Linked DNA regions of Homo sapiens. The protein of the gene in region 2 interacts with the protein of the main gene of each other region in a pairwise test. Each region holds a gene or a part of one and is shown on either strand. Other genes may lie near its edges.

Region 1 (7,589 bases), on a different chromosome or scaffold from region 2:
GATTCTCCTGCCTCAGCCTCCCAAGTAGCTGGGATTACAGGTGCCCACCACCACGCCCAGCTAATTTTTGTATTTTTAGTAGAGATGGGGTTTCACCATGTTGGCCAGGCTGGTCTCAAACTCCTGACCTCAAGTGATCCGTGCACCTCAGCCTCCCAAAGTGCTGGGATTATAGGCATGCGCTTTGCAATCTCAGCTCACTGCAACCTCCACCTCCCGGGTTCAAGCAATTCTCCTGCTTCAGCCTCCCGAGTTGCTGGGACTACAGGCGCGTGCCACCACGCCCAGCTAATTTTTGTATTTTTAGTAGAGATGGGGTTTCACCATGTTGGCCAGGATGGTCTCGATCTCTTGACCTCATGATCCACCCACTTCAGCCTCCCAAAGTGCTGGGATTACAGGCATGAGCCACCGCACCCAGCTGGCAACCACTGTTAACATTTTCTTGGGTATCCTCTTTTTTTTTTTTTTTTTTTGAGACAGTCTCACTCTGTTGCCCAGGTTGGAGTGAAACAACACGATCTCAGCTCACTGCAACCTCTGCCTCCCAAGTTCAAGCAATTCTCCTGCCTCAGCAGGAGTAGCTGGGATTACAGGCGCCTGCTGCCATGACCAGCTAATTTTTGTATTTTTAGTTTAGACGAGGTTTCACCATGTTGGCTAGGCTGGTCTCGAACTCCTGACCTCAGGTGATCCACCTCAGCCTCCCAAAGTACTGGGAGTACAGGATGAGCCACCACTCCCGGCCTTGTGTATCCTTTTATAGATATTCTGGCATCTTTATTATGCTGATAAAACACTATACCAACAAAACGCAAAATCTGCATAAAATACTATATTGATTCATTTCATTTCATGTTGCGCCTAAGCTGTGCCATGCCCTGTGCTGGATTCACATATAATACATTGTCTAGAGCCCCAAGGGTGTACACGTTGTGTGCGTATGTGTGTTAAGAGGGGATGGGGATGCTTATACCTGTAATCCCAGCACTTGGGAGGCTGAGTGGGGTGGATCACTTGAGATTAGGAGTTCGAGACCAGCATGGCCAACAGGGCGAAACCCAGTCTCTATTAAAAATATAAAAAGCAGCTGGGCATGGTGGCCCACACTTTACAAAAACTTCTGGAAATGTCATAGTTAATCCTCTGGGAAACTTTGAGAGGTAGGAATTACTGAAAATACAAAATTAGCCGGACGTGGTGTAGTCCCAACTACTCAGGAGGCTGAGGCACAAGAATCCCTTGAAACTGGGAGGCAGGGTTGCAGTGAGCTGAGATCAGGCCACCGCACTCCAGTCTGGGTGACAGAGCAAGACTCCCTCTCACAGAAAAAAAAAAGGGGGGGGGGTGGGGGCAACAGGTACCAAGGGACCATAATTAGTACAAGGTAAAATATAAGTGTGGGAGTGTCACGTAGTGGTTAGCACTTGTTCTCAGAAGTCAGATTTGGTTTACAGTCCCAATTATGCGACTTGCTCTCAGCATGACCCCATGTAATTCACTGAACCTCTGTAAGTCTGTTTTTCCATCTATCAGACCAGATTAATAATAGTACCTAAGGCCAGGTGCGGTGGCTTACGCCTGTAATCCCAGCACTTTGGGAGGCCAAGGCGGATGGATCATAAGGTCAGGAGTTCAAGACCATCCTGGCTAACACAGTGAAACCCCATCTCTACAAAAAATATAAAAAATTAGCCAGGCGTGGTGGTGGGCGCCTGTAGTCCAGCTACTTGGGAGGCTAGGGCAGGAGAATGGTGTAAACCTTGGAGGTGGAGCTTGCAGTGAGCCGAGATCGCGCCACTGCACTCCAGCCTGGGCGACAGAGCAAGACTCCAAACCAAAAAAAAAATAAAAATAAATAAATAATAGTACCTACTACTTCACTGAGTGTTGAAAGGAATAAAGCCAAAGTATACAAAATGCCTGCCACATATTAAACACTCAATAAATGTCTGCTAAAAAAATAATTTTTTAGGCCAAGCACGGTGGCTGACGCCTGTAATCCCGAGCACTTTAGGAGGCCAAGGCGGAAGGACTGCTTGAGCCCAGAAGTTCGAGACCAACCTGGGCAACATGGTGAAACCTCGCTTCTACAGAAAAATACAAAAATTAGCCGGGCATCGTGGCACGTGTCTGTAATCCCAGCTACTTGGAGGGCTGAGGCAGAGGTTGCAGTGAGTTGTGATCCCATCACTGCACTCCAGTCTGGGTGACAGAGCAAGACCCTGTCTCAAAACAAATCAATCTTTAGCTCTCCATAAATCTTGGTCATTATCCTTCAGGTCTGCATTCCATTACTGTAAATTCATAAAACTCTAAAAGGCAGGAAGGGTGGGGTGGGTGGATGACTTCTGTAATCCCAGCACTTTGGGAGACCGAGAAGGGCGGATGACTTGATCCAACTCCAAAAGGAGTTGGAGACCTTCCTGGCCAACATGGTGAAACCTCGCCTCTACTAAAAAAATACAAAAAATTAGCCAGGCGTAGAGGCGCCTCTACTAAAAAAATACAAAAAATTAGCCAGGCATAGAGGCATGCTTGTAATCTCAGCTACTGGGGAGGCTGAGGCAGGAGAATTGTTTGAACCCAGGAGGCGGAGATTGCAGTGAGCCACGATTGCGCCATTGCACTCCAGCCTGCGTGACAAGAGCAAGATTCCCTCTTTAAAAACAAAAAACAAAAAACAAAAAAACTCTAAAGCCAGACTCTTTTTTTTGAGACGGAGTCTCACTCTTTTACCCAGGATGGAGTGCAGTGACTCAGTCTCGGCTCACTGCAACTTCTCCTTCCCGGGTTCAAGTGATTCTTCTGTCTCAGCCTCCTGAGTAGTTGGGACTACAGGCGCCTGCCAACACACCCGGCTAATTTTTGTATTTTTAGTAGAGACGGGGTTTCACCATATTGGTCAAGCTGGTCTCGAACTCCTTACCTCAGGTGATCCACCCACCTCGGCCTCCCAAATTGTTGGGATTACAGACGTGAGCCACCGTGCCCGGCCCAGACTTCTTTTTTAAAAAACCAAACTTGGTGGCAAAACATCCAAAGTGAGGCTATTCATTTGACTTGGTACGAATGTTCATACACTTTGATGCAGAAATGTCAATAGGTTTGGCTACCCGGCGCTGCCCCACTCCTTGCTTGGTGTGTCATTCCAAAGTCTGAAATACATCTGGCCCCACTGGTTTCCAGTTAATATTGATCCTATATTTTTGCTAGGGAAAAAAGTTTTTGTTTTTGTTTTGAGACGGAGTCTTGCTCTGTCGCCCAGGCTGGAGTGCAGTGGCACGATCTCCGCCCACTGCAAGCTCCGCCTCCCGGGTTCACGCCATTCTCCTGCCTCAGCCTTCCGAGTAGCTGGGACTACAGGCGCCCGCCACCACGCCCGGCTAATTTTTTGTATTTTTAGTAGAGACGGGGTTTCACAGTGTTAGCCAGGATGGTCTTGATCTCCTGACCTAGTGATCCGCCCGCCTCAGCCTCCCAAAGTGCTGGGATTACAGGCATGAGCCACCGCGCCCGGCAAGGAAAAACAGTTTTTTAGGAAGGCCCCTGTCATTCTTAGTCCATAGGAATTTTTTTTTTTTTTTTTGAGACGGAGTCTGGCTCTGTCGCCCAGGCTGGAGTGCAGTGGCGTGATCTCAACTCACTGCAAACTCCGCCTCCCGGGTTCAAGTGATCCACCTGCCTAAGCCTCCTGAGTAGCTGGGACTACAGGTGCACGCCACCACGCCCGGCTAATTTTTGTATTTTTAATAGAGGCGGGGTTTCACCATGTTAGGCTGGTCTCGAACTCCTAACCTCGTGATTCGCCCACCTCGGCCTCCCAAAGTGCTGGGATTACAGGCGTGAGCCACCGAGCCTGGCAGATTATTTTTCACTTTAAACATTTTAGGAAAGACCCAAAGAATCCTCAGGGTTTACACTCACAGTACCTCGATTCCTGTATATTCCAAGATTTGTGGGAAGAAAAAGTACTAAGCTTGGAGTCAGGAGGCCTGATGTTTCTTCCTTTCACCAAGCTTCTCTAGTTCTGTTTCATTATCCCCATGGCAACAACTAGCAACAGTGACTGGCATTTAGTAGGCCCTTCATAAATATATGTTGAATAAACTCTAAAAGAGGTAGCTTTTCATTCCAAGTTGAGTTCTCTCTTGGTCCTGTTGCAGGCAAGGGCAATGGTACCCTGCCCTAGGTGCACAAGTGTGCAGGAGGGATCAATCGCAGAGCCTTTCCGAGAGAAGGGGCCCAAAGCGAGTCAACTTCTCTACTGAGCTTCCCATGAGGATGCTGGATCCCCAATCCTAACCATGCAGACGTCTGAGGGTCGCCGCCATTAACGGGAATGATATGGCCCTTCCTCCCCCACTCCCTCCTCTCTTCTCCCCTTTCAACACTTGAATTGGGCTCTCCGCTACTTCCGCACAGCGCAGGACCCACACGAGCCCAGAACCATCACGGCCTGCTAGTTCCCACCCCTCCCGTCCTGGAGGACCGTAGGTGGACGCTCTTGCAGAGCGCCTCTCGCTGGTTGGGGCGGGGGTGGGCGGAGCCAGCACCGTCTGGGCTGTGGAAGCGGAGGGGGTGGGGACACTCTGGCCCGGTTCTCGGTGGTGCGGGAGCGGGCGGGAGCAGCGGCCGCTCTGGTCGGCGGACGTGCTGCCGAGTAGTCCCGGAAGCGAAGCAGCGATGGCGGAGAGTCCGACTGAGGAGGCGGCAACGGCGGGCGCCGGGGCGGCGGGCCCCGGGGCGAGCAGCGTTGCTGGTGTTGTTGGCGTTAGCGGCAGCGGCGGCGGGTTCGGGCCGCCTTTCCTGCCGGATGTGTGGGCGGCGGCGGCGGCAGCGGGCGGGGCCGGGGGCCCGGGGAGCGGCCTGGCTCCGCTGCCCGGGCTCCCGCCCTCAGCCGCTGCCCACGGGGCCGCGCTGCTTAGCCACTGGGACCCCACGCTCAGCTCCGACTGGGACGGCGAGCGCACCGCGCCGCAGTGTCTACTCCGGATCAAGCGGTGAGCCGGGGTTTTTCCTCCCCCAGCCCCGAGCTCCGGGGCTCGACCTTCCCCGCCCCCCACCCTCTCCCACTACAACTCACCCCCCACCCACTGCGCTGCCCTCGCGGCGGCCCACCTCCACGGCCCAAATCTTGCCAGCTCCGGGCGTCGGGATCCAACTCCCTTCTCCCCCCACCCTCAGACCCGCAAGCACCAACCCCCGCCTCGTGTGCCCAGATCCGACCCCGCCCCTCGACAACCTCCCGTGAGCCCTCCGTCTCCATTCCGGCCACCCTCCCCCACACCTCCCACCTCCGGGTGGAAACCCGACCCTTTAGCGCTTCAGTAACGCCCCCTCCCGCCTTCGGCGCCGCCCCTATTTCCCCTTCCCCACCCCAACCTTGCTAGATGCTGCCCGCAGGCCCCACCCATCGGTCCCCTCTCTTCTCCTCTGGAGCCCCGTTCCTAACACAGACGAACTCAGCTTCCTTTGCCATGCCTCTGACTCGAGCCAACCTTTCTTTTTATCCTCCGTTTTTCTCAGATTCCCTCCACACAGTCTTTTCCCAGGTCTAGATCGCTTCCCTCGCCCCAATCTTTCCTTGAACCCCTTTTCCAGTGTCCCAAAGCTGTCCACTCTTACGCCTCTTCCAGAAACACAGGCTACCTCCCCCCAATTCCCCAGTGCCACTCTGGATTGTAATATCCCACTCAGGAGCTTCTTTCTTGTAATTTCCCTCCCCCCACCCCCCACCCTCCCCGGGTCGTCTGTTTTACTTCTATGAAGCAAATATACTCATCAAATATAGGAACAAAGGCCTAAGTCCTTTCTGTGCTTATTTCTTGGGTGACTGATCTTAGATCCTATCATTTAGTAGATGATGTTTTCCAGAAGCACATAGAATAGTACCTATCGCATAAGAAAAGGGCAGTGCTCTTTAGCTATTAATCCTGAAACCTGTTTGACTTCTCCCCATGCCCCCATCACAAGCATCTTCGTTTAGTTCTTATTCCCCATGTTCCACGTCCTTTCAGATGTCTCTGTGTCTACTTTTCAAGGTTGTAATAAAAATTAATATAATGTGTGTAAAGTACCTGGCACAGTGCCTGACACAGGAGGTCAACTGTGGAGGGATTGCCACCTCTAACTGAAACTCAGCACTCAACTCTTTTCCTCCTCCAGCCATTTCAGTCATCCAATTCTGACATACCTTTGAGTTTGGCCAATGCTTTCCTCTGCTTTGTCGCCTATTTGCCCTTTTTATGTCCCTACCCACCCTAGCAAGTCCCTAGGCTTTTCGCCACCTAGAATGTTCTTTAGCCCCTTGCTCTCAACTGATCCATTCCAGTTGGTGAGATATGAGTCAGAAATCTTATCTCCTATGGAAGTCCACATGTCATCTTCCAGATGGGAGATTCTTAGCAATTTCTGAGGATCCCTCCCCAGCCTGAAGAGATCTCTACCCTGAGACACCCCTGGGCAAGAAGGCCACCATGATAGTCTTACTCTCTGCTGGCTGGCTTGCTTCATACAATCCCCTTACCAATAAAGGTCCACTGTATAGTTTATAGAATTAGTTTTTTAGTGGAGTTGATGATGCCTTTCCAGTTACTAAAAAATCTTCATTTAGCATTCAGTCGTAGTACCTGGGAATCATGGAGGTGGGGAGTGAATGAATTGCCATGTGGGAGGAAGTGAGAGTAAGTGGAAAGTGGCTTTTCCAGGCTGACATTTGATGCCATTGGGATCTCTGATTTTTTTCCTCTCTCCCTCCCCTCCCCCTGAGGAAACAATGCCCTTTTGATAATAATTTGCTCTCTGCCTGCCTGACAAGTACTCAGCTGAGATTTCTCAGCCAACAAGACAGTACAAACACTTGCGGTACCAAGCACCACTTTCTCAAACCCTGGCCTCATTGAGGTGATAACAACTGTCCTGCTCAAGGGATTCCCCCTTTCCCCCTCTTCCTCACTCCTTCCCCCACCTCCTCTTGGTGTTATACAGGGATATCATGTCCATTTATAAGGAGCCTCCTCCAGGAATGTTCGTTGTACCTGATACTGTTGACATGACTAAGGTATGTAACTTGATGGGGGTTTGGGGGGTTTTGGGAAATTGGGGGCCATAAGGTTGCAAAAGCCTAAAAGAGATTATTCAGCTCACCTCTCCGATTACACAGATGAAGAAATCAAGACCCCAGGAGAGTAAGTGGCTTGTCCAAGGTCACATAGTGAGGTGGAGCAGCACTTTGAAGAGGTGTCTGTTATTAGTGTACCCCATAGGTACTGATTGGCTTGGAAAATCCCAGTTCATGTCTGTTGTCGCAGCTTGACTATTTATAGGGCATTCTTTCACTCTCAAAAATGCTCCTGTTTGGATAATAAATTATATGGTCACCCTATCCATTGTACTACCCAGCTCTTCCCCCATCCCGTTACTCTTGACATTAACTATGCTATGGTACTATAAATCAGATGTAGGGAAGGTTGGGAATAGGGCAAGCTTGACTGAAGTGTTTGTGGTTAAAGGACTTTGCTCAGGATCCTGTCCTTACTGGTTGCGTTTAAGTATCCCTTCCACCCCAAAGACTATACCTCTCTTGT
Region 2 (6,390 bases):
GAAAGAGTTACCTCCCTGAAAGTATATAATTGGTTTGCTAACAGAAGGAAGGAGATCAAGAGGAGAGCCAATATTGGTAATGTATCAGTGAGGCTGCTTTTCTCTTGTGCAGCAGTTGTGAACGTCATGTTTATATTAAGATTAACTTCAGTTTAGAAACTGCAAGTCTAAAGGATCCTAACTTCTCTTTTTTTTTTTTTTTTTTTTGAGACGGAGTTTCACTCTTGTTGCCCAGGCTGGAGTGCAGTGGCGCGATGTTGGCTGACTGCAACCTCTGCCTCCTGGGTTCAAGTGGTTCTCCTGCCTCAGCCTCCCGAGTAGCTGGGATTATAGGCATGTGCCACCACACCTGGCTAATTTTGTATTTTTAGTAGAGATGGGGTGTCTCTATGTTGGTCAGGCTGGTCTCGAACTCCCGACCTCAGGTGATCCGTCCGCCTCGGCCTCCCAAAATGCTGGGATTACAGGTGTGAGCCACCGTGCCGGATCCTAACTTCTAAGCCTAACAAAAGTTGCCCTAATGTCTTTCATTGTGTTTTTAATAAACCACAGTTAGTATTATTTACACTATTTGTAGTGTAATGGTAATGACATTATTATTTATAAAACTCATTCTTCTTAAAGTTCTAGAATATAGAATTAGACATGGCCCCTGAGCAATTGATTACTCCTGTGGTACATTTGAAAGATACTTGTAAGATCTTGAGAAAGGGAATGTAATACCCAGAATTTCTTCATTATTACTGGACTATGACTTAAATATTAGGAAACAATTGATTAATGGTTTGGAATGAAAGAGACTTAATAGACAAGGAACGCAGCAAAAGGCAGAGATAAAGAGCATTTAAGAAATATGGATTCTTGATGTAATCATTTATGTATATATACACATATCAAAACATCACCTTGTACACCATAAATATATACAATTTTTATTAATTATATTTCAATAAAGCTGAACAGAGAAAACAAAAATGCCAAAAGTGCCCTAGAGGGAACTACGAATACAACTGAAAAAGGAAGAAATAAAGGATTTGTTCCCATTCAAAACTGTAACAGTAATAAATAAGAATAAGAAATTTAAGTTGGTGAGTCAGGTGGGATGTTGGTTTTTAGCTTCTAAAATTGCATTTCATTTCTTCCATCCAAGTACTAACCAGGCCTGACCCTGCTTAGCTTCCAAGATCAGACGAGATCGGGCGCATTGAGCGTGGTATGGGCATAGAATGCATTTCATTTCCTTCCTTTGTAAATACACTTTTTATTCATCAGTACAGTTCTCATATGCTCTATAGAACCCCAAGATAGGAAGACTGTTTAGTTAGTTAGCAAGTATTTATGAAGCACCTAACATGCACAGCAGCAGAGACCCCAGAATGGCAAATGTGTGCCTCCCCTGACCTACATGCAGTTGAATTTCATCCATCTTACAGTCTAAAAGAAACAAATGTAGAGAAATACAGGTTCTTGTTTAATTACATTCTAATTAATTTCCTTAGCACAAAAATTCATTCAGTGTTTCAGCCATTGTGATAAGGTAACAGATAATTTAGGGATCTATTTGCTTTTTTCGAAGAAGCAGCAATCCTGGAGAGTCATGGGATAGATGTGCAGAGTCCAGGAGGCCACTCAAACAGTGATGATGTCGACGGGAATGACTACTCTGAGCAGGTGAGCCCCTGCGCAGCTGGGCGAGGTTCTTGGTGCCTGAGCAGGGGGTATAGTGGGACAGCTTAGTTCCTTGGGTGTGGCTGATGGGGTGGGGGAGGGGAAACAGTCACTGTCCCTCCACTCTGCTCCTGTGTCTAGTTAGATTTCATGTAATTTGAAAGGAATGTGGTAAGATTCAGTTGTCCTGTTGAATTTGTGAGAGATCGTTATTCACCCACATGGATTTATTGTCATACAACAGGATACTTGGCAAGTACGCAATGGGGAGGAGGAGGAGGGAAGAAGTTCAGAGGGAGGCAGAGAAGCAGAGAAGGTAGAAGAAGAGAGGAGGATCTGATCCAAACAAGCAAGTTACACCATTCACGACACACACTCAGTGTTTGAGAAATACTAGGGGCAGCTGGACCCCATGCCTAAACACGTACCGACGCAGGGCACGATGGAAGGCCCCACTCACTCTGGCCCCACTGCAGTGGGAACCCTCCTGCCCAAAGGAGTGGTTCTTCCAGAGTCTCTGGCACACTGACACATGCATCCTCTCATAAGTGCAATACCTGCATGACTCTTCACCTCGCCCTGATTTATTCTGCATTGCTTTTGGGGAAAATGTATTTAATTGTAGCCACTGCGTGGAGTAATTCAGTAACTAAGACTGTGGGAGTCCCTCCTCGACCCCCACATAGATGTTGACAGATTTCATTAAAATTTTGATAGGATTTAAATTTCCATTTGGAATATGCAGAGAACGCATGGTACCTTCCCCTAGACCACAGCAAGAAAACTTCTGCTCATTTTTCTGGGGTCTGTGCTTTTTTCTTGCTCCTCAGCCAGCTCATATAGTCCAATGTGTTCTTTAATAGCCTCTGTTTACCACACACCTAGAATGCATGCAAGTGTGTGCTGATCCCTTTGTAAATTCTAAAAACTAATCTGTGAACATCAGAAGGAAACAATGATGTCCACACTTCTGAAGAACTACCATTTTTTCCCATTTAGGACTCTAGTTAATAGCCCCAAGAGAATATTCTGTAAGTCTTTCTGTTCGGAAACATTCCTCTTTTCAGTCTACCCACATAGATGGATCATTTCCATCTTTTTTTACAGATGCCCTAAGGGCAGCACATTCCATGTTTTGTTTGTTTTTTTCCTTAAGGGACTTACCCTTTCCAAAGCTCTTTGATACGGAGTTCCCCTGAAGATGACAGGTGAGAAACATACCCCTTATTTGTAACACCATCTTCAGTGCCTGACGTACATCCTGCAATGCCAGCTTCCTTCACAGCTTTATTGTTTAACACATTGAGCTGCGCGGGGAGGACAGCTTCACACTAGTTCTAGGTAAGACGCCTGCCGCTCCCCTTGCACAGCTGCCTGCAGCAGGAGAGCTCGACACCTTCCTCCCCTTTCTCCCGTAGCCGTTTCTGGCAGTGACATGTGTCCTGTTGTAATGGAGAATTCTTTTTTTCTTTTTTTACAAAAATGCATTTTTTATCTGTAAGATGTAATTGTAAGTTCTGTCTAGTTTTCTCAGTTCAGAGAGGGACCATGAATTCTAATAATCTATTTGTAAGAGCAGCAATCTGGAATTTAATAGCTCACTAGTATGGCCTTCAGTGATTAGTGCTATATTTGTTACAAACAGAAAGATCCAAATTGTTGGTTTTATATCAATCACTGCAGGTTTGATCATCATCACCAGCAATCTTATTAATAGAATGAATAGAATTCTCAGTGATGAAAAACATTTTTTGTGCTTTTTACTTGTTGAATCATAAGATTATCAACTGAAAATCTTTGGACCTATATCCATTCAGTGTCTACTTAAATACAATTTACCTCTATTTTATCATGAGCCCCTCCCCCAGTTTCCTCCCACGAATGTTCTGCCTCCCCTTGCCCCAGCATGTCTCTCTGTGACTAAAGAATTCTTCCAATCCACTAATAACATTTCTTATTTCTGCACATCTAGGATGACAGTACGAGCCATAGTGACCACCAAGACCCCATCTCATTAGCTGTGGAAATGGCAGCAGTCAACCACACTATCTTGGCATTGGCCCGACAAGGAGCCAACGAAATCAAGACAGAGGCCCTGGATGATGACTGATCAGGGAGGTTAAACATGACAAGTTAACTTAGTTTAGACGTAGCACCTTAGCAGACTTTCCTCGGTCCTTAACATGTGTTCTTACAGTATAACTTGCAGTTTCTTGTATGTCAGGTAGCTGTTAGGGTCTTGTTCTGTGAAGATGGCATGGTGCCCTCAGCCTTTGCATATACTCTCTCAGTATTAACTCCCAGTAAATAATAACCAACCAACCAACCAAACTTCCCTCTCCCAGCCCCCGAGGCTAGAAAATCTTGCTGCTCCGTCTTAGCATTCCAAGAAAGTGCTTCCAGGTATTTAGATAGCCCTCAGTTCTCAAATATTAGACTACGTGTAAAATCTTGGGTACCTTTAGATTCTTGTAACACTAGTCTGTACTCCCTTTTCCTTCCCCAAGACTGATAGGATGCAAGCTGAGGTCGTGGCACAGGAATGACAGACACCATTTGGGGAGTATCCACAGAGTCAAAGGAACACTAGAATCCCCACCTCAGCGTGAGGATAATTGATTTCCAGCTGCAATAAGCCGTGCCTCATTATAGCCACACTGTGGCTAGATTATACTTCTTTGGGTGCTGTGCTAAGAATGTCAATGGAAAAAGCCGATCTCAGATTTTGTTTGAAGTTAACATGCCTGACACAGACATCCTTTCCTCTCACAAGCTGTGTGACTTAGTAGATAAAATACTGCCTTCTGCCTTTGGGACCATGATTAAAAACAAAGACAAAAACCAAAAGTCATTAAAAAAAAAAAAAAAAAAAACCCAGCTTGAGAGCATTGGAAAAAAAAAATATGAGCTGAATGTCTAATGGATGCTAAGTCCAGTTTTCAGAACCACTGTACATTCCACGGCACAGTTAGCAGTGCCTGCCTGGAAAAGTTTTGGAGGTCATCGTGGAAGTTGCTTTGCCTCCTGTCAGTGTCCCCTTTCCCTGCTACCAAAAAAGTCTTTCAAGGATGGAGCTAAGGTCAAAAATGAGTGAAAAAACTTGCAGTGTTTGTATCCATTAAACGGAAGCCCCCTCACTCTGAGAGGTCACTAGAGGACTTCATAGTGGGGTTGTGCTGCTTATCACAGATGCAGACACTTGCCCAGATAGGAGCAGAGAAAAGCAGGGGACGTTTCCTACTCACATTGTGGCTGTATGAGAACACGATGGGACTGCTTTGCTGTTCTCTTTACTCTGTCCTTGGAGAGGTGTGAAAAGCTGTATTGCTACAGGCAATTTATTTAATAATTGGAAGCCATATTGATAATGGATGTGGTAATATTTGTAAAGTTTAATCTACTTTAAGCGGCAGTAACTAATGGAATTTTTTTCCTTGATCACATATGTAGCACTTTTGTTACTTTTTAAAGATATTTATATTTGATAAATCTTTTTTTCATTTTGAGAACTCAAAATACCAAACAGTGAACTTGCATTCTAAAGTCACCCTGTGATCACCTTGTCATCTAGTAGCAAAATGATGAACTATTCATGCATCAAAGAAAATTACATCTGCTGGCCTTGTATGAAAATGATCTCTTGGCATCCCGATTAAATGACACACTGTCACTGTGGGTAAGAGGAAAGAGCCTTCAATGTAGCAGCACAGGGTGCGCCTGAAAGAGGCACAACTGCTGTGGATTTTCTGCCTCGCTCCATCTCTCCTATGTATAATGAAGCCTTGTTTAAAGGGGCATGTGGGGCTGGATGTTAAGCACGGCTTCTTTTTGTCCGTTACCTGAAAACAATTTCTAAGATAAAAGGAAGGTGCCATTTCCTTACCTCTTCACCCATCCTCCTCCACCAAATGTATTCAACTTAAAACTGTGAGAGAGAGAGACTGAATGACCTTCCTCAGTTTTCCCTTTCTCATTCAGGAGATACTGAATATCCGCCAGTTTGTAGTTGGTTTCCTTCCACTTAAGGCACACGCTGACTGCATCATTTCCTTATCTGTTAATCCTGCTTATGTGAGTGTGAGGAAAGTCTTTGAGAGGGCATGAAAGTGCCACCTTATATATGTCTGTGACTTTAAAGAGCTATATGCAGGGCCTGGTCCCACTTTTGTCCATGGATTTCAGGGGGAAAAAATATATGTACTTTTTTCAGCTTCCAAGCATTGAAGTGAAGTGGAGCCGTCTCTTCTGTTTTACTGTATTACTTGAACCAACAAATTCAAGAGTAGCATTTGTTATTCTCAGGAATGAGCCTCCCACCGCCCCCCCCCCACCGACTCATATTCTTTTTTGGTTTATCTTTTTATTTCAATTAGGAGATTACGTTCTCTTCCTTTCCTTTTATTTTGCTTAGAGGAAATGTAACATAGTCCCATTTTTGTGGAATTTTGACGCTTATTCTCAATTGAATCAGAAAGTACAAGGAGACAGAGAAAAAATCCGCTCTGACAAGCCACATCCATGATTGATTGTAAGGGGATTATTATAATTGATAGCTTCTTTATCATGGGATTGCTAGTATCATTTGTACTTGCTGGTCTTTTTAAAGGAACAGACTGACTCAAACTGTTAAGACAGCTGCAGTTTCTAAAGAAATACAAAGATTGCCGTGGATGCACTCAAAGGTTTCATTGTTTTAACACCTTTAAGGGAGAAAAAAAGCTT

What was found.
Region 1: the proteins of HMBOX1 (region 2) and UBE2Z interact in binary tests that used the Homo sapiens proteins (3 or more experiments, as listed by UniProt).

The regions. Positions count from the first base shown.
Region 1 is NC_000017.11:48,903,818-48,911,406, forward strand, and holds the start of UBE2Z (ubiquitin-conjugating enzyme E2 Z), read left to right. Parts: upstream 1-4,589; 5' UTR 4,590-4,686; coding exon 4,687-5,003; intron 5,004-5,121; exon of another isoform or gene 5,122-5,166; intron 5,167-6,990; coding exon 6,991-7,063; intron 7,064-7,589. UniProt on the Homo sapiens protein: Catalyzes the covalent attachment of ubiquitin to other proteins. Specific substrate for UBA6, not charged with ubiquitin by UBE1. May be involved in apoptosis regulation.
Region 2 is NC_000008.11:29,047,378-29,053,767, forward strand, and holds the end of HMBOX1 (homeobox-containing protein 1), read left to right. Parts: coding exon 1-76; intron 77-1,576; coding exon 1,577-1,671; intron 1,672-1,912; coding exon of another isoform or gene 1,913-2,008; exon of another isoform or gene 2,009-2,017; intron 2,018-2,824; coding exon of another isoform or gene 2,825-2,851; exon of another isoform or gene 2,852-3,009; intron 3,010-3,640; coding exon 3,641-3,778; 3' UTR 3,779-5,885; downstream 5,886-6,390. UniProt on the Homo sapiens protein: Binds directly to 5'-TTAGGG-3' repeats in telomeric DNA. Associates with the telomerase complex at sites of active telomere processing and positively regulates telomere elongation.